Homo sapiens: one gene and its partners. The protein of the gene in region 1 binds, or shares a complex with, the protein of each later gene. Each region holds a gene or a part of one and is shown in the gene's direction. Other genes may lie near its edges.

What was found.
Region 2: SART1 (region 1) and USP39 share a complex: the UniProt entries of both Homo sapiens proteins name them as parts of the U4/U6-U5 tri-snRNP complex.
Region 3: SART1 (region 1) and SNRPB share a complex: the UniProt entries of both Homo sapiens proteins name them as parts of the U4/U6-U5 tri-snRNP complex.
Region 4: SART1 (region 1) and PRPF3 share a complex: the UniProt entries of both Homo sapiens proteins name them as parts of the U4/U6-U5 tri-snRNP complex.

What each region holds. Positions count from the first base shown.
Region 1 is NC_000011.10:65,957,237-65,964,749, forward strand, and holds the start of SART1 (U4/U6.U5 tri-snRNP-associated protein 1), read left to right. Parts: upstream 1-4,497; 5' UTR 4,498-4,544; coding exon 4,545-4,857; intron 4,858-6,837; coding exon 6,838-6,895; intron 6,896-7,278; coding exon 7,279-7,334; intron 7,335-7,513. Other genes in the region: TSGA10IP (testis-specific protein 10-interacting protein), read left to right, coding at 1,647-1,746, 1,915-2,078, 2,581-2,704. UniProt on the Homo sapiens protein: Plays a role in mRNA splicing as a component of the U4/U6-U5 tri-snRNP, one of the building blocks of the spliceosome. May also bind to DNA.
Region 2 is NC_000002.12:85,611,310-85,619,198, forward strand, and holds the start of USP39 (ubiquitin carboxyl-terminal hydrolase 39), read left to right. Parts: upstream 1-4,876; 5' UTR 4,877-4,886; coding exon 4,887-5,154; intron 5,155-7,889. Other genes in the region: UPF0561 protein C2orf68, read right to left, coding at 359-477, 569-675.
Region 3 is NC_000020.11:2,461,121-2,467,789, reverse strand, and holds the end of SNRPB (small nuclear ribonucleoprotein-associated proteins B and B'), read left to right. Parts: intron 1-31; coding exon 32-183; intron 184-1,970; coding exon 1,971-2,082; intron 2,083-3,890; coding exon 3,891-4,043; intron 4,044-4,562; coding exon 4,563-4,701; intron 4,702-4,742; exon of another isoform or gene 4,743-4,838; intron 4,839-5,028; coding exon 5,029-5,154; intron 5,155-5,850; coding exon 5,851-5,861; 3' UTR 5,862-5,996; coding exon of another isoform or gene 5,997-6,034; 3' UTR 6,035-6,148; downstream 6,149-6,669. UniProt on the Homo sapiens protein: Plays a role in pre-mRNA splicing as a core component of the spliceosomal U1, U2, U4 and U5 small nuclear ribonucleoproteins (snRNPs), the building blocks of the spliceosome.
Region 4 is NC_000001.11:150,331,514-150,338,534, forward strand, and holds part of PRPF3 (U4/U6 small nuclear ribonucleoprotein Prp3), read left to right. Parts: intron 1-1,170; coding exon 1,171-1,254; intron 1,255-1,465; coding exon 1,466-1,686; intron 1,687-3,421; coding exon 3,422-3,728; intron 3,729-6,646; coding exon 6,647-6,813; intron 6,814-7,021. UniProt on the Homo sapiens protein: Plays a role in pre-mRNA splicing as component of the U4/U6-U5 tri-snRNP complex that is involved in spliceosome assembly, and as component of the precatalytic spliceosome (spliceosome B complex).

The sequences.
Region 1 (7,513 bases):
AACTCCCCAGTTCAGACGATTCTCCTGCCTCAGCCTCCCAAGTAGCTGGGATTACAGGCGCACGCCACCACTCCCAGCTAACTTTTGTATTTTTAGTAGAGACAGGGTTTCACCATGTTGGCCAGGATGGTCTCGATCTCCTGACCTCGAGATCTGCCCGCCTCGGCCAGCTCCTGTCACTTCTAACAGAAATAGCATAAAGTATCCAGCAGGAAAAGTGCACACAATATCACAGAAAAGATAGGGACTGCCAGCTCATTTCCCACCTCCCCTTGTAACTGCCATAAATTCCTTCCTAAATGGTGAAAGCCGTTTTTGCAGTAACTTGTGTTCCGGGCCATGGGTTTTCAAGTCCATGTCTTTTTCTCAATGAAGGATGGTTCCTTCCCTGGCACAGGGCCACAGCAAGGGTGGCATGGCCCAGCAAGGCTGAGTTTTTCCACCGGGCCCAGCACAATCGCTGAGGTCCCAGTACAGGTCTTGGGGTCTTGTCTGTGTCTCCCCTCCCCTCCTGTCCTCTTGTCTGCGTCTTCCCTCCCCTCCTGTCCATGGGTGCTGCCTCCACACCTCAAGGCCTCTCTTACATGCTTCACAGATGGATGCCTGGTCCCATGTGGGTGTGGCTCGAAGGTCCCTCTTGCTGCTAGAGTGCTCTCTTCATGAGTGGCAGTGATACTCAAGTTTGTCAAACAGACACATTTCTGACAAGTGCACAAACTGGGTTTTGGGTTTTTTGAGACAGGGTCTTGCTCTGTTGCCCAGGCTGGAGTGCAGTGGCACAATCTCAGCTCACTGTAGCCTAGACCTCCGAGGCTCAAGCGATCCTCCCACCTTGGCCTCCCAACTACCCAGGACTACAGGTGCATACCACCATGTCTGGCTAATTTTTGTAGAGACAGGATTTCACCATGTTGCCCAGTCTGGTCTCAAACTCTTGGGCTCAAGTGATCCACCCTCCTTGGCCTTCCAAAGTGCTGGGATTACAGGTGCGAGCCACCACGCCTGGCCAAATTGGGTTTTTATAAATGAAAATTGTGCTTCCCCAGTGGAACCCTGATCTCTCAGGGGTGTGTTTTTTAAATTTGAAACATATTTTTTTTTAGTTTCTCTGTCCCATTTTCCAAGCTGTCTGCTTACAAGAACCACAGAGAATGCTGGCAAGCTTGTCCGATCCCTACTATAGCACAGTGAAATAAACTGAGCCCAGAGCCAAGAGCCCAGAGAGAGGCCTCACCCAAAGTCACACAACCAACAACCACAGCTCCCCCTCAAGGGAAAGAGGATGGGGAGGGGAAGCTATGTAAGCACGTGTCTGGAAGCTCAGAAGCCAGCACTGGCCCCTTTCCCATGGGGCTGGCACAGGAGGATGGGCAAGCCCCAGCTGCACAGGGCTCGGCCCCTCACTTCCCAGCTGCACAACTTTGAACAAGTCCCTCAACCCTCCCGATCCATCCGTAAATTGGGTGAATAATTTCCACCTTGGCTGACTTCACAAGGAATCCAGGCAAGAATGGGAATGAAATAGCTTTGTAAAGGTGAGGGTGAGGACATGAATATCAAGTCCTTAGTGAAGATAAGCGGGCTCAGGAATGGAGATCAACAGTTGTGTCCATGGTTAGCTGCACAAAGGCCTGTCTCCCCTGCAGGCGCCAGGAGCGACAGCGCTTTGCTGAGTACCAGGCGGAGCTGCAAGGCATCCAGCACAGGGTGCAGGCCCGGCCCTTCCTGTTCCAGCAGGCTATGCAGGTGAGGCTGGCACCTGGGCAAGCACATAGCTGCCCCCTGTGAAGAGCTGGCTGAGTGGGTAGGGAAGCAGGATGCGAGTAGGTCCCTGCAGATAGGATCCCAGGGCTGCTGCCCTCTGGAATCCCTGGGACCCCCTCAGTAACCCGATCCCCACCTTGCCCTCGGCAGCCCTGGTGCAGAGCAGGAAGCCGTCTTCTCTCTCCTCAGGCCAATGCCCGGCTCACCGTCACTCGGCGCTTCTCCCAGGTGCTGTCAGCACTGGGGCTGGATGAGGAGCAGCTGCTGTCTGAGGCAGGAAAGGTGGACAGAGAGGGCACCCCCAGGAAACCCAGGTGAGTCTCCCCGTCAGGTCAAGAACTGACTCTGCCATGCTGCTGCGGGAAGGGGCGCCCACACCAGCACTCTGGGCTCTGGAGGGCCTCCCCCAGGACAGGCAGAGAGCCCAGAGGAAGGCAAGGCCAGGGTTGTCATTCCTACTTCTCAATGAGGAAACTAAGGACCTGAGGGGAAGGGCCTTCTTTAAGGACGCAGGAGCGAACAAGCAGCAGAACCAGTCTGGGACTCTGCAACCATCTGAGCGGCCACACACCAAGTCCCTCATTAGGGGCTGGCACCACCACGCTGGTCACCCCATGCCTTAGAATAACCTGGTACAGAGCAGCGATTATGAAGCCCACTTGACAATAAGGAAAGTGAGACTCGAGAAGAGTCACTTTGCCCAGGATCACACAGCAAGCCGGCACTGAAGCAGGGTTTGAAGCCACATTGTCAGTGGTTTCCTTGGGCATGGGGGTGGGAGCTGCAGAGTCAGGGGCCTCTATCTGTGTCTTGAAGGAGCCACAGGTCAATGGGGGTGAGAATGGAGCACTCTCCTCAGAGGCCCCCAAGGACAGAACCCACCGGCAGCCAGCCTGACAGGCACTACAACCCCAGCCTGGACCCGGAGTGCAGTCCCTGAGATAAAATTAAAGGCTTTATGGCAAACACAGTATGAGATTTCTGGTGGTGGGGGTGGTGGAAGCTACGGGTTGGAAGTTGGAGGTGGCAGGTGGGTGGGCAGCAGGCTTAGCTCTGTCCCCGCACCCCCTCCCCACCAGGAGCTTTGGCTCTTTTGGTTCCCCCCACCCAGTACACACAGCCCCTTCTCTGCTCCTGAGGAGTGGGGACATCTCAAAGAGCAAGAGCTGTGACTTCTCCACCCCATCTCCAATGTATATGTTGGGTCCTATAAATTCAAGCATGAATAAGATGAAATGACTCCTGCCTCTGAGGACGCCCAGTGAGTGGGAGAGGGGGTGGATCCTTAAAGGGGCGCATACAACATAGCCTAACACATGCTGAGTTGTGCCACACAGGGAGCCACAGACTGAGCAACCACTGGGTGAGGGGAGGGGTTTCAGGAGAGATTGGGATTGTGTGCACTGCGCTTTTTTTTTTTTTTTTTAAGACAGAGTCTCGCTCTGTCACCAGGCCGGAGTGCAATGGTGTGATCTCAACTCACTGCAACCTCTGCCTCCCAGGTTCAAGCGATTCTCCTGCCTCAGCCTCCTGAGTAGCTGGGACTACAGGTGTGCGCCACCACACCCAGCTAATTTTTGTATTTTTAGTAGAGACGGGGTTTTACCATGTAGGCCAGGATGGTCTCGATCTCTTGACCTCGTGATTCGCCTGCCTTGGCCTCCCAAAGTGCTGGGATTACAGGCGTGAGCCACCGCGCCCGGCCTGCACTGGGGTTTTAAGTCCCAATAGTTTTAAGTTAGGGCTGGTCTCCTCAAGAAAAAAACTCATACACACAGATGTGCCACATTTTGCATTCAATTTCAGGGGTTCCAGGGATACACTGACGCCCATGTGGAGCTCCTAAACAATCTTAACAGTTCACGGGGCCAGGTTTTAAAAATCCAATCCAGGGCCAGGCGCAGTGGCGCATGCCTGTAATCTCAGCACTTTGGGAGGCCAAGGCGGGTGTATAGCCTGAGCTCAGGAGTTCGAGACCAGCCTGGCCAACATAGTGACCCCACCCCCTACCCCCGCTCCCCACCAACCATCTACAAAAAAATACAAAAATTAAAGGGGCGTGGTAGCGTACTCTCGTAGTCCCAGCTACTGGGAAGGCTGAGGTGGGAGGATCACTTGAGCCCAGGAGGTCGAGGCTGCAGTGCGCTGTGATCACGCCACTGCACTCCAGCCTGAGCAACAGAGTGAGATCCTATCTCAAGGGAAAAAACAAAACAAAACAAAACAGGGAACGTGGGAAGGAAGCGTTCCCTGACGATACTGGTTATAGCGGGTCTGAAGCTGGGCTGTGGAATTGGAGATCTCGGGAAAACAACACCCGTTGGAGCCACGACCCTAGGAGTCCACTAAGCGAGCGCCCATTGTAGGAGGGAGGTGTCTACGGAAAGACCGTGAGGTAGTGAACACCCCGTTGCCGGTGAAGTGCAAGCGCAGGGAGGCCGGGGAGGAACTTAAAGCCACGAAGACACTGACTTAATGGGCTCTAAGTCCTTCCAGTTCTGGGATCCCACCTCCGGGTTAATTCCGCTTCCCTTGAGGAGCGCATGCGCAATGGGACCACTCGCTCAAAGAACCCACCCGACCCGAGACGGCGCGAATGTGCAGTCGAGCGCTGATCCCGGCCTTCCCATGAGCCTCTGGGGCAGGCTCCAAGGCGAGCGACGGAAGCAGCCGCTCTTAGTTTCCGGCAACACGACAGCGGCTGCCGAGCGACCCGGAAGTATTCCCATTTTGCGTTGTCTGGGCTCGGCGGCAGCCGGGCTCGGAGTGGACGTGCCACTATGGGGTCGTCCAAGAAGCATCGCGGAGAGAAGGAGGCGGCCGGGACGACGGCGGCGGCCGGCACCGGGGGTGCCACCGAGCAGCCGCCGCGGCACCGGGAACACAAAAAACACAAGCACCGGAGTGGCGGCAGTGGCGGTAGCGGTGGCGAACGACGGAAGCGGAGCCGGGAACGTGGGGGCGAGCGCGGGAGCGGGCGGCGCGGGGCCGAAGCTGAGGCCCGGAGCAGCACGCACGGGCGGGAGCGCAGCCAGGCAGAGCCCTCCGAGCGGCGCGTGAAGCGGGAGAAGCGCGATGACGGCTACGAGGCCGGTGAGGAGGCGGGGCCTGCGCAGGGGGCGGGTCGGGCGGGGGTCCCGGAACGCGTGGGTCTGGGTGTGCGCGCAGTGTCAGCGAAGCTCTTCAGGCCAGGAAACCCCCAAGCTGTTTACCAGCTCTATTAAATAGTCTTTCTACGGGATCCCTTGAGCCCAGGAGTTAGAGGCTGCAGTGAGCTGCGGTCCCGCCAGTGTACTCCAGCCTGGGCAACAAAGCGAGACTCTGTCTCAAAAAGAAAAAAGTCTTTCTACGGTTGTTTAGGATTAGAGGTTGACTTTCTCCACTCAGCTGCTTGAGGACAGAGGGCTTCTGTTTTCCTCAGTTGTCTGGTACAATCAGATTCTCAATAAATATGTTGAATGAGTGAATGAAGTAGTGTCAGCATATACAGAGGCAAGAAAAACCTGGTATTGGACGAATCGTGTAGGGCGCATGGTAGAGAAATGAGGGAGTAAGATAGACAGGGATGTGAACACAAAGGACCCTGTACTGTAGTCTCTGTTAAGAACTGTAGATTGTCTTGAGGATAGTAGGGAGCCATGGATGTGAGTTGAGGAGTGAGTTGCTCAGATCCGTATTTTGTAAACATCACTGGATTGAGAATTTAGTCAAAGGTAGTCAGGACTGGAGACCAGGAAACCAGGAGGGCTATAGGCCAGGGGAGGGCTGATGGTGGCCTGCACCAAGGCAGCAGCAGTGGGATTGAGAGAAGTGGACAGGTTGGAGAGGTGTTTTGGAGGAGGAATGAACAGAACTCAGCACTTGTATGAGGGTGGGAAGAAGGAATGGAGGATGACTCCTTGAATTTTGGCTTGAGCAGCCAGATAGGTAGTGGGTGTCATTTCTACTGAAATTGAGGAGTAGGGAAGAGAAGCAGATTTGGAGCGGGGGTGGGGGGAGATAGTTCACTTTTGGGGTTGTCAAGGTTGATGGTAATGGGGAAATCCAGAGTTTGGACTGGATAAAGCCATTGGGAGTCAGTATCTGGGTGGCCAGTGAAGCCCCTGAAAGACTGTGACATGAGAAGAGGGGGTCAGGACTAGAACCTGAGAAATGCCCTTATGTTAGTAGTAGGCAGAGAAAGATGTTACCAAAAAAAGGAGACAGAGTAACCAAAAAGGCAGGAAAACCTTTGTGTCATGGGAACTTTGGGAAGAGAGTATTGTTAGAAGGAGGGAGCGATCAGCAGTCCCACATACCACAGGAGATCAAGCAAAACCAGAACCGAAAAGAACCCACTAGATTTAGAAACGAGGAGGCTGGTGACCTTGGGGAGCCTGGAGAGGTTGGGATCCATGGCCCAGGTGGAGAGAGAAGCCTTTAAGATAAAGGAGAAGGTAGGATGCAGGATGGGAATGCAGGAAAGGAAGAGTTTTTTTTTTGTTTTGTTTTGTTTTTTTGAGACAAAGTCTTGCTCCATTGCCCAGGCTAGAGTGCAGTGGCACGATCTCAGCTCACTGCAAGCTCTGCCTCCTGGGTTCAAGCAATTCTCCTACCTCAGCCTCCCGAGTATCTGGGATTACAGGTGCGCACCACCGTGCCTGGCTAATTTTTATATTTTTAGTAGAGACGGGGTTTCACCATCTTGGCCAGGCTGGTCTTGAACTTCTGACCTCGTGATCCATCTGCCTCGGCCTCCCAAAGTGCTGGGATTACAGGCATGACCCACCATACCCGGCCCAGACCTTGTCTGTTAAAAATGAAAGAAAAAAGTAGAGGGCAGAGTGGTGACTACAGCAGTTTGGATGTCTTGGGTCAGGAAAGGAAGGTGCACAGAAGAGGCAGGGCTCTGAGACTGGACTCGGGCAGAGGAGCTGCTGGGGAGCTTGGGTGGAAGAAGCTGCTGTTTTCTGGTGTTTCAGCAGGCCCAGGTGCTGGTGAGGGGCCCTCATTTTTGTTCCTGCAGCTGGAGCCAACGATGCTGGCTTCTTGGCCCTGTGTTCAGCTCCTGAGCCATGCTTCTTCTTGTTCCAGCTGCCAGCTCCAAAACTAGCTCAGGCGATGCCTCCTCACTCAGCATCGAGGAGACTAAGTGAGTACTGTCTCCCTTGTTTCTACTTTGTTTTTCTAAGAGAGGTGGCTCTGGGGCCAGCACGGGGGAGGCTTTCTCACATGAAAGTGTGCTAATCAGAGTTGGAAAGATTGTTTAAATCATCTTAGCCAACAGTTGACTTATAGAAGAGAAAACTAAAACCTAAGAGTAAAGTGGCATTCACTGGTTAGACGCAGACCAGGCTGGTGCCCATGTTTCCTGCTTTGGAGGCCAGGGCCCTTCCCAGTGTCCTAGGCTGCCTGGGGCAGACTTTGTGTTTGGGACCACTCACTCCCACCCTGTTTCTCCTCTTGTCTGTCTGGAAATGCACATGGCACCCTGTGTCTTTAATAGCCCCTAACACTTGTATCTCTTGTTGTCAGCAAACTCCGGGCAAAGTTGGGGCTGAAACCCTTGGAGGTTAATGCCATCAAGAAGGGTGAGTATGGGGCTGAGGATAGGGTTTGGGGGAAAGAGGCCATCTGAAGGGGTCTTTGAAGAAGGTGGGGTTAGAGGGCAGGTTCAGCACTGTTTAGTGGTCTTACACATGCATATTTGCCGGAAGGCATGAGGTCCCTCCTTGCTGGTATAATGGGGATCTGGGGCTCCGCCTGCTCT
Region 2 (7,889 bases), on another chromosome or scaffold:
CCATTTACTGGGTTCATTCCGCAATTATGTGCTGGTCGCTCATCGCTGTGCCAGACTTTCTCTTTGCTAGGTAGCGGAGCACCTTACTAAAATACAGCACGGTGGGGCAAACCGGCAGATAAACTTCTTGCTGGCTCCCCGATACTCTGACAGCGATGCTTAACTGGGGGCTTATGAGTCGTCCCAGTTCTTGGTGAGAATCATTCAGCGGAGATTTGGGAGCGCTGAGGTGGAGGTTCCGGAAAGAGACGAGATGAGCTGAACCTTAGGAGTAAGAAGTGGTTTTTCCCTATAGAGAAGGGGAGTGCGTTGCAGGAAGAGCGCGCGGGCTGGAGGCAGGCGGGGCGGGCGGCCTCACCTCGGTGTCGCGGCAGGTACACCTGCAGGTCTGGCTTGCGGGGCCGCGTCGGCGCGGGCGTGTGCCGCCTCCTCACCTTCTCCTTGGCCGCCTGCTTCACCTTCTTGTCATAGTCGTCCCTGCGGGGAGCCGAGCGGGAGTCAGGGACTGTCGGGCCGGGCCAGGCCAGGCCAGGAGTGGTGGCGGCGGCGGCGCAGGGCGGGGCGGTACCGAGCGATCTGGTTCCGTCGGATATGGTGCACGAAGCCGTGGTTCATGTCCAGCCGCCCCCCAGGCTTGCAGCAGTGCCCCGGCCGGGGATGCGGCCCCGCCTCCATCAGGAGCCGGGGACGCAGAGTCGCCGCCGCCTCGACGGCCCCAACAACAGCCACCCGCCCACAGAGCTCCGCGCCGCCCCTTGCTCAGCTTCCGGCCCCGCATCCTGACTTCCGGTCTGGGAGGCCCCGGCCTGGCCAAGCGATGCAGCGCACGGAGTTTTCGGGTCTGGTCGGGTCGGGTGGAGTAGGGTATGCTTGACTTCCACCCCCCGGACGGAGGGCTTTTGTTTTTGTTTTTTTTTGTTTGTTTTTTCGTAACATATCAATAGGAAACAAGGACTTCGGCTTACAGCTGATACCAGAACCTTCAGAAAAATGCAAATCATCTATAACACAACTCGATGCTTACGGCGGTGCCTTCCCATCTTTTTTCTGGTAATAGGATGCTGTGCAATCCATCGCCATCTGCGTGACTTTGGCTGACTGTGTAACGCTGCCACTTCTCAGTTTCCTCATTAGTAAATGGGAACACCTAGAGCACCTACCTCAAATGGATTGTGAGGCCTTGAAGTGCTCAGGCAGGGCAACAGCGGCGCCCAGGCCGCAGGCGCCGCGAAGGCTCTCCTGGCCCGGCTTGCCTCCTGCTCACGGCGCCGATGGCTTAACTGTCCCCGCGGGAGGACCCAGGGTTTTTGAGGGACCTACGGGTGTATTATTTTCTTTTTTATTTATTTTTCCTTTTTTTTTTCTTTTTGAGAAGGAGTCTCACTCTGTCGCTCAGGCTGGAGTGCATTGGCGTGATTTCGGCTCACTGCAACCTCCGCCTCCCGGGTTCAAGCGATTCTCCTGCCTCAGCCTCCCGAGTAGCTGGGACTACATGCGCGTGCCACCACGCCCGGCTAAGTTTTGTATTTTTGGTAGAGATAAGGTTTCACCACGTTGGCCAGGCTGGTCTCGAACTCCTGACCTCAGGTGATCCGCCTGCCTCGGCCTCCCAAAGTGTTGGGATTGCAGGCATGAGCCACCGTGCCCGGCCCCTTTTTTTTTTTTTTCTATTTTTTCTGACCACTGGGTTCACGTCACAGCGTGTAAAATTCTCAAGTCCTTTTACAAAAGTCAAAATCAGGAATTCATGATTAGGACAGGGACAAACGGCTGGATGCAGTGGCTCATGTCTGTAATTCCAAAACTTTGGGATGCCGAAGTGGGAGTATCGCTGGAGGGAGGAATTTGAGACCAGCCTGGGCAACACAGCGAGACATCGTCTCTACAAGAAAAAAATACATTAAAAAAGAAAGAAAGAGCCGGGCGTGGTGGCTCACGCCTGTAATCCCAGCACTTTGGGAGGCCCAGGCGGGCAGATCAAGAGGTCAGGAGTTCGAGACTAGCCTGGCCAAAATGGTGAAACCCCGTCTCTACTAAAAAAAAATACAAAAAATTAGCTGGGCTTGATGGCCGGTGCTTGTAATCCCAGCTACTTGGGAGGCTGAGGCAGGAGAATCGCTTGAACCCGGGAGGCGGAGGTTGCAGTCAGCCGAGATCGAGCCACTGCAGTCCAACCTCCAAATCAAAAAACAAAAAACAAAAACAAAAAACAGGGACCAATGGTGGTCCAGCCACACGATGGAATATTACTGAGCAATCCAAAGGAAGATCTGTAGCTCAACAACATGGATGGATCATAAAATAAATATGCCCAGTGAAAGAGGCCAGGGACTCTGTATGATTCCATTTATATGAGACTCTAGGAAGTGCAAACTAATCTATAGTGACCGAGAGATCAGTTGATTTTTGTGGGGGTTCTCTGGGAGGAAGAGGATATCTTTGGGGCTGGGTAGATTCTTTAAATTTTTTTTTATTTTTTTATTTTTTTGAGGCAGGATCTCACTGTCGCATAGGTTGGATTGTAGTGGTGCAATCACTGCTCACTGCAGCCTCCACCTCTCAGGCCCAAACGATCCTCCTGCCTCAGCCTCCTGAATAGCATGCCACCATGCCCAGCTAATTTTAAAATTTTTTTGTGGAGATGGGGGGGGTCTCTCTATGTTGCCAAGGCTAGTCTTGAACTCCTGACCTCAAGTGATCCTCCTGCCTCAGGCCTCCCAAAGTGCTGGGATTATAAGTGTGAGCCACCGTACTGGGCCCAGATCCCGTCTCTTGATTGTGGTGATGGCTTCATGGGTGTATATGTTACAGGAAAGGGATCCCTATTCAGACCCCAGCAGAGGGTTCTTGGATCTTGTGCAAGAAAGAATTCAGGGTGAGTCCACAGTGCAAAGTAAAAGCAAGTTTATTAAGAAAGTAAAGTAGCCAGGTGTCGCGGCTTATGCCTGTAATCCCTGCACTTTGGAAGGGGAGGCGGGCGGATCACTTGAGGTCAGCACTTCCATACCAGCCTGGCCAACATGGTGAAACTCTGTGCCTACTAAAAATACAAAAATTAGCCGGGCATGGTGGCAGGTGCATGTAATCCCAGCTACTCAGGAGTCTGAGGCAGGATAATCACTTGAACCCAGGAGGCAGAAGTTGCAGTGAGCCGAGATCTCACCAATGCACTCCAACCTGGGTGACAGAGCAAGACTCTGTATCAAAAAAATAAAATGTAAAGTAGTGAAAGTACAGCTACTCCATTGACAGAATAGGGCGTTCCTGAAAGTAAAAGGAGGAACGCATCCACCATGGCTACAATGCTTGTTTATATATAGGATAAAAAGATCATGGGGAGATGTGCTCTGCTACAAGGGTTTGTGATAAAGGATTAATTTTATTATTATATTTTGCAAGAAGAAATATTATCTTTAAAGCAAAATTAGGAATGCCTTTATTCTCCAGATATTGGGATATTAGGACACTCCCAAGTCTGGATCTGTTTAGTAAACATTATCTCTCTGTTCCCTTAACTGTAGACATCTCTAGGCTAGGAATACCTAACTTCCTGGGAATGCAGCCTGTCAAGGCCCAGCCTCATTTTCCTAACCCTCACTCAAGATGGAGTTGGTCTGGTTGAAACGCCTCTGACATATACCGCAAGTCAGAATTCAGTAAATTGCACACAGTGTGGTGTGGTGTGGTGTGGTGTGGTGTGGTGTGGTGTGGTGTGGTGTGGTGTGGGTATGACAGAGTTTCACTCTGGTTGCCCAGGCTGGAGTGCAATGGGGCGATCTCGGCTCATTGCAACCTCCGCCTCCCGGGTTCAAGCGATTCTCCTGCCTCAGCCTCCTAAGTAGCTGGGTTAACAGGCTCGTGCCACCACGCCCGGCTAATTTTTGTATTTTTAGTAGAGATGGGGTTTCACCATATTGGCCAGGCTGGTCTCCAGTCCTGACCTCAGGTGATCCGCCCGCCTTGGCCTCCCAAAGTGCTGGTATTATAGGCATGAGCCACAGCGCCTGGCCTAAATTGCACACTTTAAACATGTAGTTTGTTGTATGTCAATTATACCTCAATGGAACGGTTCAAACAAGCAAACAAGTTCAAGGCAGGTCCTGAGGTTAGAGCTTTATTAGCTTCATGGTAAATCTGCCTTTACCGGGCATTTGCGTTTTCATGGTACCAAGAACCTTCTAAAAGTAGAATTAGGGCTGTCAAGGGGATGATTTGGGAATGTCGCCTAGTTTTCCTGTGCAGGATTGTCAGCCCCCAAGCCGCGGAGACTGTGGGAAACGACCTCACGGTGGTGGTTTCGAGGCACAAATCTGGGGCCGAATGACAGCTTCTTTGTTTTTGAGACGGAGTTTCGCTCGTTGCCCAGGCTGGAGTGCAATGGCGCGATCTCGGCTCACCGCAACCTCCGCCTCCTGGGTTCAAGCGATTCTCCTGCCTTAGCCTCCCGAGTAGCTGGGATTACAGGCATGCGCCACAATGCCGGGCTAATTTTGTATTTTTAGTAGAGACGGGGTTTCTCCATGTTGGTCAGGTTGGTCTCGAACTCCCGACCTCAGGTGATCCACCCGCCTCGGCCTCCCAAAGTGCTGGGATTACAGGCGTAAGCCACCGCGCCCGGCCTGACAGCTTTTATCCAGAAAACTGTCGCCAGTAAAGGTTCCCGTCTCAGTAAACTGTAAACGACAGTAGGCCCACAGAAGGTTCTAAGGGGAGAGGAAGCCAGTGCAGGAACAGCACCGCCCACAAATTTTCTGCAGCGTGATTTGTCCCCAGTGGCGACTCGTAGAGAGTTCGGGGCTCGCTACCAGCCCCTCTCCTGATTGGCCTTGTGCCGCGCGCTCGAGCGTGCTTGGCGCCTGCGCTGGACGACTCGGCCGGTAGTGGAGATGTCCGGCCGGTCTAAGCGGGAGTCTCGCGGTTCCACTCGCGGGAAGCGAGAGTCTGAGTCGCGGGGCAGCTCCGGTCGCGTCAAGCGGGAGCGAGATCGGGAGCGGGAGCCTGAGGCGGCGAGCTCCCGGGGCAGCCCTGTGCGCGTGAAGCGGGAGTTCGAGCCGGCGAGCGCGCGCGAGGCCCCGGCTTCTGTTGTCCCGTTTGTGCGGGTGAAGCGGGAGCGCGAGGTCGATGAGGACTCGGAGCCTGAGCGGGAGGTGCGAGGTGCGCGGGGCCGGGCCGGGCTAGGCGCGAGAGCCTGTTTTTTTCGCGTCCTTTTTTCTTGTCTCTAATCTTCCGCTAGGTCACTGCGCCGGAGTTGGGGGAGGGGTGGGGTTGGGGTGGAGAAGAGGAGGGATCCAGACTCGACGATTCTGCTGTTCGACTTGTTCTGATGAAGACAGTACCCTTCTCAATAATCGTATAGTATTTCTTTTTTCTTTTTTTTTTTTTTTTTGAGATGGAGTCTCATTCTGTCACCCAGGATGGAGTGCAGTGGCGCGATCTCGGCTCACTGCAACCTCTGCCTCCCCGGTTCAAACGATTCTCCTACCTCCGCCTCCCAGGTAGCTGGGATTACAGGCGCCCACCACCGCTCCCGCCACCACGCCCGGCTAATTTTTTGTGTTTTTAGTAGAGAAGGGGGTTTCATCGTGTTAGCCAGGATGGTCTCGATCTCCTGACTTCGTGATCCGCCCGCCTCGGCCTCCCAAAGTGCTGGGATTACAGGCGTGAACCACCGTGCCCGGCCAAACGTATGGTATTTCTAACTGCAAAAATCGTAACAACAGCAGCTTCCCTTTATCGAATGCCCGATGTGGGGGCTCAGTGCTGATTTTACAAGTGTTACTTCCTTCCATTTTAAAAAAGAATTTTTTTTTTTTTTTTTGCGTTTTAAGAGAAGCAAGTCTCGCTATGTTGCCTAGGCTGGTCTCGAACTCCTGGACTCAAGTGTTCCACTCACCTCGGCCTCCCAAAGTGCTGGGTTTACAGGCGTGAGCCACCGTGCACGGCTTTCCTTCAGTTTTTACATCTAAGGTCTTGTAATTTCTGTAATCAAGATATTCAGAATGCTTGAGCAATAGGCACCTCTACTAAAGTATGGATTATGTAGCACTTTTTAAGCTGAATAAAGTCTGGAGACAATTTTCCATTAGTCTCTTGAGTTTGTGCACGTACTGCGACCATTGCCTGACTGCCTTTTCTCCTGGACTCTCGTTAAGGATGTTCGTGTAGTGAGCAGCCTTGGAAGATAGAAATGGTGTCTCCCTACAAAACGAGGAGACAAGGGCACAATCCCTTATAAAAGATTTGGGGCAGGGTGTGGTGGCTCACACCTGTAATCGCAGCTACTCTATAGGATGAGGTAGAGTTCAAGACTAGGATAGGCAACAGAGCGAGACCTCGTTTGAAAAAATGGTTAATGGTTCAGATTCTCTAAGCACGGGGTTCGTCTCCTGTAAGGCAGCTCACTGTGTGCATGGGTTCTCCTCACTTTGCCTTGTGGGAATTCACTTGGAAAACTGACACCAATGCTATATTCCGGCTACTGTCATTGCTCTAATAAACTGTCCTTTATTTCAGGCCAGGTAGTCACATGCTTTCCATCAGCATTCATAAAACTGTGACAGGCTAACTTGTTAGCTTGCGAGTAGGGTAAGATCTGAGACCCACTCAAGTTTTTGACAAGTGGTAGATTTATAGATACACATGTACATTCTTTTTTTTTTTTTTGAGACAGTTTCACTCTTGTTGTCCAGGCTGGAGTGCAATGGCACGATCTCAGCTCACTGCAACCTCTGCCTCCCAGGTTCAAGCAATTCTCCTGTCTCAGCCTCCCAAGTAGGCTGGGATTACACGTGCATGCCACCATGCCCGGCTAATTTTTGTATTTTTTAGTAGAGATGGGGTTTTATTATATTGGTCAGGCTGGCCTTGAACTCCTGACCTCAGGTGAGCCGCCTGCCTCTGCCTCCCAGAGTGCTGGGATTACAGGCATGAGCCACTCACCCAGCCACTCTTTAAACTACGTAGTACATTTGTGGCCGGGCGCAGTGGCTCACGCCTGTAATCCCAGCACTTTGGGAGGCCAAGGAGGGTGGATCGCAAGGTCAGGAGTTCGAGACCAGCCTGGCCAACATGGTGAAACCCCGTCTCTTCTAAAAGTATGAAAATTAGCTGGGTGTGGTGGCTTGTGCCTGTAGTCCCAGCTACTCGGGAGGCTGAGGCAGGAGAATTGCTTGAATCCGGGAGGCGGAGGTTGCTGTGAGCTGAGATCGCGCCATTGCACTCCAGCCTGGGGGACAGAGCGAGACTCCGTCTCAAAAAAAAAAAAACAAAAAAAAAACGAAACACACAACTATATGGTACATTTGTATTACAATTAGTTTATTTTAGTGCTTGTGACATATTTCATATTTTTCATGCTTTATGGGATTTCTTTATGTAAAATGCAAACAAATCTTCTGTTGATTTTATGTATACCAAATATATTCTCCCAGTTTGTGGCTTGTTCTATTAGTGGGCTTTTTTCTTTTCTTTTTTTTTTGAGAGGGAGTTTTGCTCTTGTCGCCCAGGCTGGAGTGCAGCGGTACGATCTCTGCTCACTGCAACCGCCTTCTCCCAGGTTCAAGCAATTATCCTGCCTCAACTTCCTGAATAGCTGGGATTACAGGCACCCACCACCATGCCTGGCTAATTTTTGTGTTTTTTGTAGAGACGGGGTTTCACCATAGTTGGCCAGGCTGGTCTTGAACTCCTGACCTCAGGTGATCCACCCATCTCGGTTTCCCAAAGTGCTGGGATTATAGGCATGAGCTACCGCGCCCGGCTAGTGGACTTTTTTTTCGATATTGTTGCCACCCAAACAATAGGAACTCATCTTGATTAGTTTTTCCCATTTCTGTTTCTTTTTTTGTTCTGTTAGTTGGCCCTGAGTATAGGTTTCCCATTTTCAAAGC
Region 3 (6,669 bases), on another chromosome or scaffold:
GAGTCTCATCCCTGTCCATTTCTCCTTGCAGACGGTGGGCAAGAGCAGCAAGATGCTGCAGCATATTGATTACAGGATGAGGTGCATCCTGCAGGACGGCCGGATCTTCATTGGCACCTTCAAGGCTTTTGACAAGCACATGAATTTGATCCTCTGTGACTGTGATGAGTTCAGAAAGATCAAGTGAGGAGTGGACTGTGGGGGGCGGAGACTGGAGGATGGGAATGGATTGAGTGGGTGGGCCAAGCAATAGAGGTGGTGATGTAGCTAGTTGGTTCTTCTCTGTTTATTCTCCAGTTTTAGAGGGCAGACTTAAATGGGGACATTGAACGCTAAGAAATCTTTTTGAGTCCAGCAAACCTTGCTCTCTAGTCTAGCAAAGTACAAGTTGTGAAGGGCTGCTAGGCTTTTTGTTTCTCTCACTTTGCGTGCCCCTGGGTACTGGGGTAAAGGGCTCTCATGTTCTCCCCACAGGTGTGTGAGGGGGGAGAGCTTGAGTTTCTGGCCTCATTGCCTATTTGTAAAGCTGTAGCCTAAAGGGCTCTCCCAATGCAGCCTGGTCTGAAACTGCTTTAAGAAGCCTCTGACCCTCTTCAGGGTAAGTGCTCAGCTCCCCATGTGGGTTTGGGGCCAGTGATTTTTGTTGGCATTTATACAAACAATTGGAGATATTGTCTACTTTGCTACAATTCCGTAAGTTATTGGCTAACTCCCTTGCCTTGAGTCTCACAGATCTTAAGCTTTTGGCCCATTAAAAGATATGATTTAGCTTCCCATCATGTTTTACATTCAAGGCTACTTGAGGCACAAAAAGATGATGTGACTTCCGTGGCCAGCAGCTCTTTTGTCATATGCAGTGTCCATATTATTCTGTCACTCACTTTGAATTCCCTTTGATTCTCCTTGGGGCTGATTTCTTCTGTGACCCAAGGTCAAGAAGTATAGTTTAAAAATGTGGTAGGGATGCCTTGGTGCCAGGTACGTATTAGAGAGGGGCCAACAGATGAGCGTGGAGCTACTCCAAAGTTCCCTCCTGATTATAAAAAATGTTTATTGGAAAATATTTTTGAAAATACAAAGAAGTCTATGAATAGAAACTAAAATACCCCGAAGGGTTTTTTTCTAATTATGAAAGGACAATACATGGTTATTATTTTAAAAAATAAGAAAATGTGAGCCAAAAAAGGGAAAAACTGTCCATCCACAGACAACCAGTTAATATACTGTAAAATATCAAAACAAAATCTTTTGAGTTCTTTTTTTAAATCAGGCTATTTTTTCCCCTTTATTTTTAGGATCTAGCTTTAGCTTTTTTCCCCACTTTCCTATCCTGTTGCAGTTATTTTTCCTACTTCACATTTATATTTTGTTCATCTTTTTCTGGTTGTTGCTTTTTGGGGGTTTCTGTTTTTATGCTTTTGAGGAACAGATATGAAATTTCAATTTCTGTGTATGTGAAATTTCTCTTAACCTTTTCCTTCTATGGCTTCTCCTATTTCTGATGTAAGATGAGGGGCAGAATTATAGGCCTGTGAGGTTGAATTGATATTAGAAGGACACTGCACGTAAGTGAGGTGGGTGGGAGTCATTTGATTGGAATTGTTTAGGCAGCCTCCTGATGTTGGCAAGACCTTAAGCTGAAGGGAGGGAATAGGGTCCTAAGAAAGAAGACTTGGCTGAGGGAAGGGCCTTCACGGTTGCTGTGGAATAGCATTTGGGCCCGGGCTGGGCTTTGTTGACCTTGTCCTATCTCTTGGTCAGTGTGTCCTCTTGGCATGGTAGGAAACAGGTAGATAGCCACCTAAGAGGTTATGTGTTCAGCCTGTAGAGACTATCCAGGAGGGCTATCTTGGGAAAGTTTGTGTACTGTTTGTTAGGAGATGCAGTATAAGCAAATCTTGGAGGCCACTAGGCAGGTGAACTTTACCCACCTCTAACACTTTTTTTGTTCCTTCTAAACCTCTCTTTAGGCCAAAGAACTCCAAACAAGCAGAAAGGGAAGAGAAGCGAGTCCTCGGTCTGGTGCTGCTGCGAGGGGAGAATCTGGTCTCAATGACAGTAGAGGGACCTCCTCCCAAAGATGTAAGTCAGAGCAGGAAGCCTTGTGGAGGAGGGGAGGCCCTACTGTGAGCCAGGCTCTGTGTTAGATTCTGTTTCATTGCAGTTCTCACAGGCATCCTCTGGATTTTGCCCCCTTTTTCAGATAATAAATGAAATCTTAAAGAGGTTACCCTGCAAGAGGCCGGGCGCGGTGGCTCACATCTGTAATCCCAGCTCTCAGGGAGGCAAGAGGCGGGAGGATAGCTTGAGCCCAGGAGTTCGAGACCTGCCTGGGCAATATAGCGAGACCCCATTCTCCAGAAAAAGGAAGAAAAAAAAAAAGACAAAAAAAAAAAAAAGAGGTTACCCTGCAAGAAAGAAGTGGAAAAGGGGAACTAGAATTTGGGTATCTCAGACTTTAAAGCTCTACCTGTTTCTCAGTTGATGTACATAGTGAGTCAGTGGAGGAAGCACCTGAAGCCATCTGGGTCAGTTCTTAATGTGACGACAAAGCCTAGGTAGACCTTAAAAAGTTGTAACTCCGAAACAATAGGAAATGTGTGTATTTTGTTTTGTACAGTTACAGTTCATAGTTACTGAGAATCTACCTTGCGCCAACCACTTCAGTATTTTATTTGATCCTTTAGGTCTCTTTAGAGATAAATTCTCATCTTATAAATAGAATAAACCAGGGCTTAGTAACTTGCCCAAGGTGCCACAGCCACTAAGTGGTGAAACTGACATTTGATCTCAGACAGTCTTGATTCTGTAAACACCAAGCTACACATAGAAATAGAGCAGGCTTTAGAGACCTAGTCAAATTTGTTTTCCCTTTCCCTTTTTCATTTGAAGGGTTTTTTTTTTTTTTTTTTTTAGATTTTTAGATGGAGTCTCGCTCTGTCGCCAGGCTGGAGTGCAGTGGCACGATCTTGGCTTATTGCAACCTCTGCCTCCCGGGTTCAAGTGATTCTCCTGCCTCAGCCTCCCGAGTAGCGGGGATTACAGATGTGAGCCACCACGCCCTGCCAAGACGTTATTTTAATCAAAAGAGAATAATCCTTTTAACTTTTTAAAAATCCACATATATTATCTGGATTTTTTTGTACTTAACACATAGTGGGCATATATTATGTTGTTCTGTGTTTTCACTTAATGTTAACATTTTTCTAGTTGCTCAACACTTTTAAAGTCAAGTTAATGACTGAGATTTTCTCAAATGAGTACAGAGTAGTTTATCCTAATCATTTTCTTTTTTGGAGATTTTTACGTTTTTGCCTTTTCCAGTTAAAAATGTCTGCAAGGGATGTTAGCATATCTTGGTTCAAAGTCCATGTACATATTCAAATCTCTTAGTACCTACTTCCAGTAGAATTGGCTGGTCTAACATAACCCATCATAAACCTTTGTGATCACAACCAGTTGTACCATAACCATGTCATTTGCAGATAAGGCAACTCAGCCCGGGATTGTGGGATTATTTGTCCATTGTCACCTAGCGGATTAGAATCAGCTGGGAATGGATCTCATGTCCCTTTAATGCCTTGCCTGCTGAACCCTGAGTGGAACCCTGGCCCTTTGCTCTTGGTTTAACTTTCACAGGAGTGCATATAGGTGGTTGAGTTGTGGCATGTTTCTCTAGACTTACTCTTAAGTTCTACCCTGCTTCAGGGATAACTCATAGTCTTGGATGGAGGAAGAATGGTGTTGGCACACATGGAGAGGTAGTATTTATAAGCTATTTCGATAGTATTTATAAGCTATTTCGAGGGGCTCTCTTGGCAATGATATTCCAAAGTATACTTCTGATCTTCAGATCACTGGGCATCAGAGCATATTTGTTTATTTTTCAGACTGGTATTGCTCGAGTTCCACTTGCTGGAGCTGCCGGGGGCCCAGGGATCGGCAGGGCTGCTGGCAGAGGAATCCCAGCTGGGGTTCCCATGCCCCAGGCTCCTGCAGGACTTGCTGGGCCAGTCCGTGGGGTTGGCGGGCCATCCCAACAGGTGAGGAGTTGGGGAAAGGGTACCACCTCCTGGTGGCTAAAATAAAGGATAAAGGGGAGGGTCCATAGTTTTAAAAGGGTCCAGAGTGACCAACCTGTGATTGTCAGACTATCAGTGTTTCACTGTGGTTTATACATGGCCCTAGAAGCAAGTGAAAAGGATAAGTTGCCATTGTAAATTATGTTGATGCTATTAAAGAGATGTACGAATTAGCCAACTGTATTTAAGGAAAATATTTCCATGACAGCATTTGAAATCATGAGTCATATTTGAAAATGCAGTTGCCTTCTCTCACTTGGATTGGACATGCTTACATTCAGGTCTAGAAGATGGGAGTTGGGCATTCAAGCTTGATCTTTCCCGACATGTGGTTTTGGATGGGAAGTCTGGTGCTGAGAGTTGTAGCATTAAGGGATTTGGTGTCTGTTATTTCCCACTGTCCTTCCCCAAGTTGGGGAGGAGAGTGGGAAGCTGCATTGTACTGTACTCTTCTAACTCTTTCTTCTTATGTCCTCTTAGGTGATGACCCCACAAGGAAGAGGTACTGTTGCAGCCGCTGCAGCTGCTGCCACAGCCAGTATTGCCGGGGCTCCAACCCAGTACCCACCTGGCCGTGGGGGTCCTCCCCCACCTATGGGCCGAGGAGCACCCCCTCCAGGTGAGGAGCCCATAAGGAGACCAGTGCTAATTGATAGAAGATGCCTTAGCTGGATTAATGATGAGATATAACCTTGACTGAAGCTGATGATGAGTTTGTATAATTAAGCAGGATTACTCTGAGATCCAGCGTGGCTGACTGATGAGACTAGGTGGACAAGAGCCATTGGGAGCCCTGGGTGTTAGGCTCAAATGTCAGTTTTCTGGGAGCTGCTGAGAGGGTGGAATGGTCCATCTATCTCAGAACTTGGTGGAAAGCTTTGTAGTTTTTTTGCTACCTTTTCAAGATAGACACTTGAGCTATATTCTTGGGGCTTTTCTCTTGCAGGCATGATGGGCCCACCTCCTGGTATGAGACCTCCTATGGGTCCCCCAATGGGGATCCCCCCTGGAAGAGGGACTCCAATGGGCATGCCCCCTCCGGGAATGCGGCCTCCTCCCCCTGGGATGCGAGGTAAGTGCCTGCAGTGGTGACTTTGGCTTCTTTCCCTAGAGCCTAGTGGGATAGGAAATGGAGGGAAGATTGCATTTAGATCATATCCCATGGGCTTTCAAGCCTTAAATCTAGGGAAATCCAGAAAGGAAAGAGAAGAGGGAACATTTCTTAAATTGGGCTTACCTCCCCTCTTAGAAAAGTTAGAGCAGCCATGCACCCAGGGTGTTTCTCAATATCTAAGGCAGCGGCCTCAGGACACAATGAAATAATGCATTCTGAGGATCCCTAACAGAAGTTATGAGATTGTCTTATGCTCTTTGGTTTGACAGTGCCTAGTAATTAAGAGGGGGCTCTGGGCTTTGCTGTACTATTATGGATTTCTCTTTAACTTCAGTTGGAGAAATTCTGAGATCAGTCCCCACATGGATGAGAAAATAGGCCCCCAGGGAGTTTGGACTCCAAGCCCAGTGTTCTTTCCCTATAAGATAACCCATGGGCAAACTTGGTGACCCCTGTTTCTCTAGTCTGGATTATTCCTCTATGGGTTTTTATAGACATAGGAACCCAGTCAGCCTCAGAGTAGTCCCTAGTTAGCACATATGCCATGTATACCCCTCTCCTCACTCGATTACTGCAGGGCGTGGGAGGCTGGGGCAGGGTTGGGGATTCAAGTTGCAGATCAGGCACTGACTAAACTTCTTACTCTTACTTCAGGCCTTCTTTGACCCTTGGCCACAGAGTATGGAAGTAGCTCCGCAGAGGCGTGGGCTCGATTCCTCAGGGCCACGTTACCACAGACCTGTTTGTTTCTTATGCTGTTGTTCGTGGAGTCTCATGGGATTGTCTGGTTTCCCTTACAGGGCCCCCTCCCCCGGGAATGCGCCCACCAAGGCCCTAGACTCATCTTGGCCCTCCTCAGCTCCCTGCCTGTTTCCCGTAAGGCTGTACATAGTCCTTTTATCTCCTTGTGGCCTATGAAACTGGTTTATAATAAACTCTTAAGAGAACATTATAATTGCACCTATGGATCTTTATTTTTAGAAAAATCTTTGATATATTGGGTGCTTAATAGAGTCAAGAAGGGTTGCCTTGGAAAAAATTAACCCTGATCTTACCTTCTTCCCTATAAAATGTTTTACTACCCATTTGCATCTGTACATCCTCATACACTAAGATACTTACAAAATTGAACATTTTCACTTATCAGATTCAAAGATCAGTTTTGTTGAAATCAGTACCCATAATATCCTCTTGGGAAGGCACTTGTCTAGATAGCTTCTCCATGAAGCAAATGCTAAAAATGAAAATTCTGCTGGGAGAGGAACAATTTTGGCATAACTTTCTGCCAGGGTCACACACGTAACATATAACCTAACGTAACTTTTGAATTGTGGTATCTTCATGAGTTCTTCCACCCAAAGCCTGTGTTCACTGAGCAGCACTCTAGTACTTAGTGCATCAAGCTCTAAGGGTACAAAAATAAGGTGAACACTGTTGTAAAGTTACTGTGTAGGGGGAAGATAATTGTAAATG
Region 4 (7,021 bases), on another chromosome or scaffold:
ACCACCACACCCGGCTAATTTTTGTATTTTTACTAGAGACGGTGTTTCACCATGTTAGCCAGGCTGGTCTTCAGCTCCTGACCTCAAGTGATTCGCCCACCTCAGCCTCTCAAAGTGCTGGGATTACAGGCGTGAGCCACCATGCCTGACCCTTCCGTAATTTTTGAATTTTGAATATATCACCTATTCAAGAAAAAATGTTAAAGACAAATGTTTAAAAATATCTTGAAGCAGTTTAAGAACAGGTCTGTTTTGCAAAATGTAAGAGGAGTTGTTTGGCCATACCCTCAAAGCTTATCATTCTGAACTTCTTTAGGACAGAAGGGGTTTATAGAGACTAGGGAGCAGGTCTTTGCACCATCGTCTCTTGTTTCCCAAACTAGTAGTTCAAGTACTAATATCATGATTTTTTAAAAAAAATTAAGTATAGGCTGGGTGCGGTGGCTCACACCTGTAATCCCAGCACTTTGAGAGGCCGAGGTGGGCGGATCACGAGGTCAGGAGATCGAGACCATCCTGGCTAACAGGGTGAAACCCCATCTCTACTAAAAATACAAAAAATTAGCCGGGCGTGGTGGTGGGCGCCTATAGTCCCAGCTACTCGGGATGCTGAGGCAGGAGAATGGCATGAACCCGGGAGGCAGAGCTTGCAGTGAGCCAAGATCGCACCACTGCACTCCAGCCTGAGTGACAGAGCGAGACTCCATCTCAAAAAAAAAAAAGAAAATTAAGTATAATATTTTGTGTAGGTTCTGTTAGGTTTGCATGCATTATTTAAGTGGTTAACACTAGACCTGTAAGGTAGGTACTGTTTTCTTCCCCCTTCTAGACACTTAGGAGGTTTAGAGACTAAGTTCCTTATCCAAGATAACAAAGGCATTAAGTGGCAGAGTTAAGATTCAAACTCAGGTTTCTCTGACTCCAGAGTCTCAATCATCACACTATATTACTACCTAATATGCTAATCTTGCTTTAGGAACATGGGTTGAAAAATTCCAGTGCTCACTTATCTTGACTAAATTTTTTGCACTGTGGTGCAGGCAGAATGTGGTATAGTCATTCAAAACATTTTAAGTGTCTAGACCTGAGAGCCTTGTGGGTTTAAAAACCTGAATGGGAGAAGTAAGAAGGAGAAATTAACAGTTTTTCAATTTTTTTCCTGGAGAGCAGATCAAACAGATGATGGAGGCAGCAACACGACAAATCGAGGAGAGGAAAAAACAGCTGAGCTTCATTAGCCCCCCTACACCTCAGGTATTGTGTCTAGATTACTCTGAACAGAATAATCTTTGGCACAGAATTTCTTGCCATCCACTCAAAATGAGAGACTAGAAGAGGTGACTACATGTTTCACTTCATAATCATCTGCTACAGTCTACCATGATGTGTGTGTATATCTGTGTGTATGTATGTGTGTTTGTCTGCCTGTCTTAATTCCTCTGATTTCTTTTTCTCTATCTCACAGCCAAAGACTCCTTCTTCCTCCCAACCAGAACGACTTCCTATTGGCAACACTATTCAGCCCTCCCAGGCTGCCACTTTCATGAATGATGCCATTGAGAAGGCAAGGAAAGCAGCTGAACTGCAAGCTCGAATCCAAGCCCAGCTGGCACTGAAGCCAGGACTCATCGGCAATGCCAACATGGTGGGCCTGGCTAATCTCCATGCCATGGGCATTGCTCCCCCGTGAGTGTCTATTTCATGGAATACCTTTTCATTTCTGAAGTTTGAGAAGCAATAAATACCTTTGAATGTTACTGATCTGGCTGGGCGCAGTGCCTCAGGCCTGTAATCGTAGCACTTTGGGAGGCTGAGGTAGGTGGATCACCTGAGGTCAGGAGTCAGGAGTTCGAGACCAGCCTGGCCAATATGGTGAAAACCCATCTCTACTAAAAATACAAAAATTAGCCAGGCGTGGTGGTGCATGCCTGTAATCCCAGCTACTCGGGAGGCTGAGGCAGGAGAATCGCTTGAACACAGGAGGCAGAGGTTGCAGTGAGCTGAGATCGTGCCACTGCGTGGGTGACAGAGGGAGACTCCGGCTCAAAGAAAACAACAAACAAAATATTACTGATCCTCTTTTTCCACAGAACCTAGATCATTTCTCACAGTTTCATATTTCTTAGGTGTGATTGATTAACCAGTTGAATTTTTTCTCGTCTTCCCTGTTGGAGGGTTTATTATCTTCTTATGATTTATATAACTGAGATTAAGGTTATTCATCTAATGTTGGAGCTAGGAGTATAGCCAGGTTTCCTTCCTGGTTTCAAACTCAGATTTATCCATTAAACCACATTGTGTGAGACTAGATCTGAGGTTCCTCTGCAACTGGTCAAAGATGTTACATTTTTTTTAGCATCTACAGTTGGTCTGGCATCCCATGAGTGACATAAGAATTCAGGGATAAGGAAAGATAGGATTATAAATTCATATAATTTATAAACTCATTTCATTTGGTTGTCCTGTATACTGAAATATCCACTTTGATATTTTTAATCAAGATACTATTGGCAGGGCGCGGTGGCTCACACCTGTAATCCCAGCACTTTGGGAGGCCGAGACTGGCAGATTGCTTGAGCTCAGGAGTTCAAGACCAGCCTAGGCAACATGGCAAAACCCCATCTCTCTAAAATATACAAAAATTAGCCAGGCATGGTAGAGCATGCGTGTAGTTCCAGCTACTTAGGAGGCTGAGGTGGGAGAATTTCTTTGGGCCTGGGAGGTTGAGGTTGCAATGAGCTGTGATTGTGCCACTGTACTTTAGCCTGGGCAGCAGAGTGAGACCATGTCTCAAAAAAAAAGATGGTATTGCTCACTGATGAGATTGTTCCCTAGAATTATTTTATTGTCCTTTTTGTTGTTGTTGTTGTTGAGAGGGAGTCTCACTCTGTCACCCAGGCTGGAGTGCAGTGATCTCGGCTCCCTGCAACCTCTGCCTCCCAGGTTCAGTAGCTGGGACTACAAGTGCCCGTCTAAATTTTGTATTTTTTGTAGAGATGGGGTTTCACTGTGTTGCCAAGGCTGGTCTTGAACTCCTGGGCTCAAGCCATCCACCCGCCTCAGCCTCCCAAAGTGCTGGGATTACAGTGTGAGCCACCACACCCGTCCATCCAAATAACTCTTATAGAGAAGGCACTGCAGCCTCAACTTCCTGGGCTCAAGTGATCCTCCTCAACCTCCTGAGTAGGTGGGACCACAGGTATATGCCACCGCACCCAGCTAATTTTAAATTTTTTGTTGAGATGCAGTCTCCTTGTGTTGGCCAGACTGGTCTTTAACTCCTGGGCTCAAGTGATCCCTCTGCCTTGGCCTCCCAAAATGCTGTGGTTCCAGGCTTGAGCCACCACGCCTGGCTTTATTTTGTTTTTTGCTTGCCTTAATGTTCCATACAGGATTTATTTCTTTGCGGGCTATTTTTCAGGAAGGTGGAGTTAAAAGACCAAACGAAACCTACACCACTGATCCTGGATGAGCAAGGGCGCACTGTAGATGCAACAGGCAAGGAGATTGAGCTGACACACCGCATGCCTACTCTGAAAGCCAATATTCGTGCTGTGAAGAGGGAACAATTCAAGCAACAACTAAAGGAAAAGCCATCAGAAGACATGGAATCCAATACCTTTTTTGACCCCCGAGTCTCCATTGCCCCTTCCCAGCGCCAGAGACGCACTTTTAAATTCCATGACAAGGGCAAATTTGAGAAGATTGCTCAGCGATTACGGACAAAGGTATCTGGCTTAGAGTATAACACAGAATTTGGAAAAAGTTAAGAAGCTGACAAGAAAACATTGTTAAATCTCTGTGTTCTAGGAAATTAGATAAATAGGTCATTTAAAGCAGCAGTCCTCAACCTTTTTGGCACCAGGGACTTGTTTCATGGAAGATAATTTTTCCCCTGGAGTAAGGATGGTTTCGTGATGGTTCAAGCACATAGCATTTATTGTGTACTTTATTATTATTATTTTTTTCGAGATGGAGTGTCGCTCTTGTTGCCCAGGCTGGAGTGCAATGGGGCGATCTCGGCTTGCTGCAACCTTTGCCTCCCAGGTTCAAGTGATTCTCCTGCCTCAGCCTCCCGAGTAGCTGGGATCACAGGCATGTGCCACCACGCCTGGCTAATTTTGTATTTTTGGTGGAGACGGGGTTTCTCCGTGTTGGTCAGGCTGGTCTCGAACTCCTGACCTCAGGTGATCTGCCCACTTTGTCCTCCCAAAGTGCTGGGATTACAGGCGTGAGCCACCGCCCCCGCCTTTTTTTTTTTTGGGCGGGGAGGGGGATGGAGTCTTGCACTGTTACCTGGGCTGGAGTGCAGTGGTACAGTCTCAGCTCACTGCAACCTCTGCCTCCTGGGTTCAAGCAATTCTCCTGCCTCAGCCTCCTGAGTAGCTGGGACTGCAGGCATGCGCCGCCATGCCTGACGAATTTTTTGTATTTTTAGTAGAGACAGGGTTTCACTATGTTGGCCCGGCTGGTCTTAAACTCCTGACCTTGTGATCTGCCTGCCTTGACCTCCCAAAGTGCTGGGATTATAGGCGTGAGCCACTGTGCTGGCCTATTTCTATTATTATTTTATTGTAATATATGATGAAATAATTATATAACTCACCATAATATAAAATCACTGGGAGCCTTGAGCTTGTTTTCCTGCTGAAATGGTCCCATTTGGGTGTGATGGGAGACAGTGACAGATCATCAGGCATTAGATTCTCATAAGGAATGTGCAACATAGCCCCCTCACATGTACAGTTCACAATAGGGTTCGCGCTCCTCTGAGAATCTCATGCCACCGATGATCTGACAGGAGGTGGAGCTCAGGCCATAATGCAGGTAATAGGGAGCAATCGTAAGTACAGATGAGACTGTTGGCTTGCCTGCTGCTCACCTCCTGTTGTGCAGCCCAGTTCCTAAAAGACTGTTGGGTTGGGGACCCCTGATTTAAAGCAATGAATACTTTGAAAAATGTGCTGGACAAGATGGCTCAAGCCTGTAATCCCAGCGCTTTGGGAGGCCGAGGTGGGTGGATCACGAGGTCAGGAGTTCAAGACCAGCCTGCCCAACATGGTGAAACCCCGTCTCTACTAAAAGTACAAAAATTAACCGAGCGTGGTGGTGGGTGCCTGTAATCCTAGCTACTTGGGAGGCTGAGTCAGGAGAATCACTTGAAACTGGAAGGCAGAGGTTGCAGTGAGCTGAGATCGCACCACTGCACTCCAGCATGGGCAAAAGAGCGAAACTCCGTCTCAAAAAATATATATATATATTTATTAATATAATACATAATTTTTTTAGCAGATTTTACTTCCTAATTCGTTTCTACATAAGTGGAAATATTATGAAATTGAGTTTGAAAATTCTCCACATACAACTAAGTGGAGGGAAACAATTTGAAACATTCTGAGTGACTAAGGAAGGCTTGCCTGTAGTTAAAATTTAATGAGACAGTACACCTGGAGAGTTGAATTGATTGTATATTGAATGACCTTTGCCGCCTTTTTATCCTCTCAAAGTGAGGTTTTCATAAAATTCCTTTTTTTTTTTTTTTTGAGACGGAGTCTCGCTCTGTCACCCAGGCTGCAGTGCAGTGGCACGATCTCAGCTCACTGAAAGCTCCGCCTTCCAGGTTCATGCCATTCTCCTGCCTCAGCCTGCTGAGTAGCTGGGACTATAGGCGCCCGCCACCACGCCCGGCTAATTTTTTTGTATTTTTAGTAGAGACGGGGTTTCACCGTGTTAGCCAGGATGGTCTCGATCTCCTGACCTCATGATCCTCCCGCCTCGGCCTCTCAAAGTGCTGGGATTACAGGCGTGAGCCACCACACCCGGCCATAAAATTCTATTTCTGCGTATTTACTGCAGGCATATACTGTGGAGTGCAGGGAGGGGTTGAAGGTGAGATCTATGTATATGAACTAAATAAAGGATAAAATAAAGCAGAACAACTCCTTTCTAAGCTTTCAGAAATTATGAACTTGTTGCGTTAGGTGTAAAGAGTTCAACGGGGAAGTGTTTTAAAATTTGGGATTCTTGGCCGAGGTGGGCGAATCACTAGGTCAGGAGATCGAGACCATCCTGGCTAACATGGTGAAACCACTTCTCTACTAAAAATACAAAAAAATGAGCCGGGCGTGGTGATGGGCGCCTGTAGTCCCAGCTACTCGGGAGGCTGAGTCAGGAGAATGGCGTGAACCCGGGAGGTGGAGCTTACACTGCACTGCACTGCAGCCTGGGTGACAGAGTGAGACTCCGTCTACAAAAAAAAAAAAAAATATTTGGGATTCTGGCCGGGCACAGTGGCTCATGCCTGTAATCCCATCACTTTGGGAGGCCGAGGCGGGCAGATCACCTGAGGTCGGGAGTTTGAGACCAGGCTGAGCAACGTGGAGAAACCCCATCTCTACTAAAAATACAAAATTAGCTGAGGGTGGTGGCACATGCCTGTAATCCCAGCTACTGAGGAGGCTTAGGCAGGAGAATCGCTTAAACCTGGAAGGTAGAGGTTGCTGTTAGCCAAGACCATGCCATTGCACTCCAGCCTGGGCAAGAAGAACGAAACTCCGTCTCAAAAAAAAAAAAAAATTGAGATTCTACACATTCTGTTTTCTATGACTCCAATTTATCTTTCTGTCTTGGATTATCTTGTTTTTAGGCTCAACTGGAGAAGCTACAGGCAGAGATTTCACAAGCAGCTCGAAAAACAGGCATCCATACTTCGACTAGGCTTGCCCTCATTGCTCCTAAGAAGGAGCTAAAGGAAGGAGATATTCCTGAAATTGAGTGGTGGGACTCTTACATAATCCCCAATGGCTTTGATCTGTGAGTTTGTTTTAGTACCTTTTTAAAAAAACAGTTTTTAATCAGCTGAGTTTAAGACTCAAGTTAATACCTTTTAGTAAAGCTATGGTTTTAGTGGGAAGGATGGTACTCATTCATTAATTAAAATTTTTAAATCCAAGAGAGATAAGTAACTGTACACAAGGTCCTGTTATTTTTTTTTTTTTTTTTTTTGAGAGGGAGTCTCGCT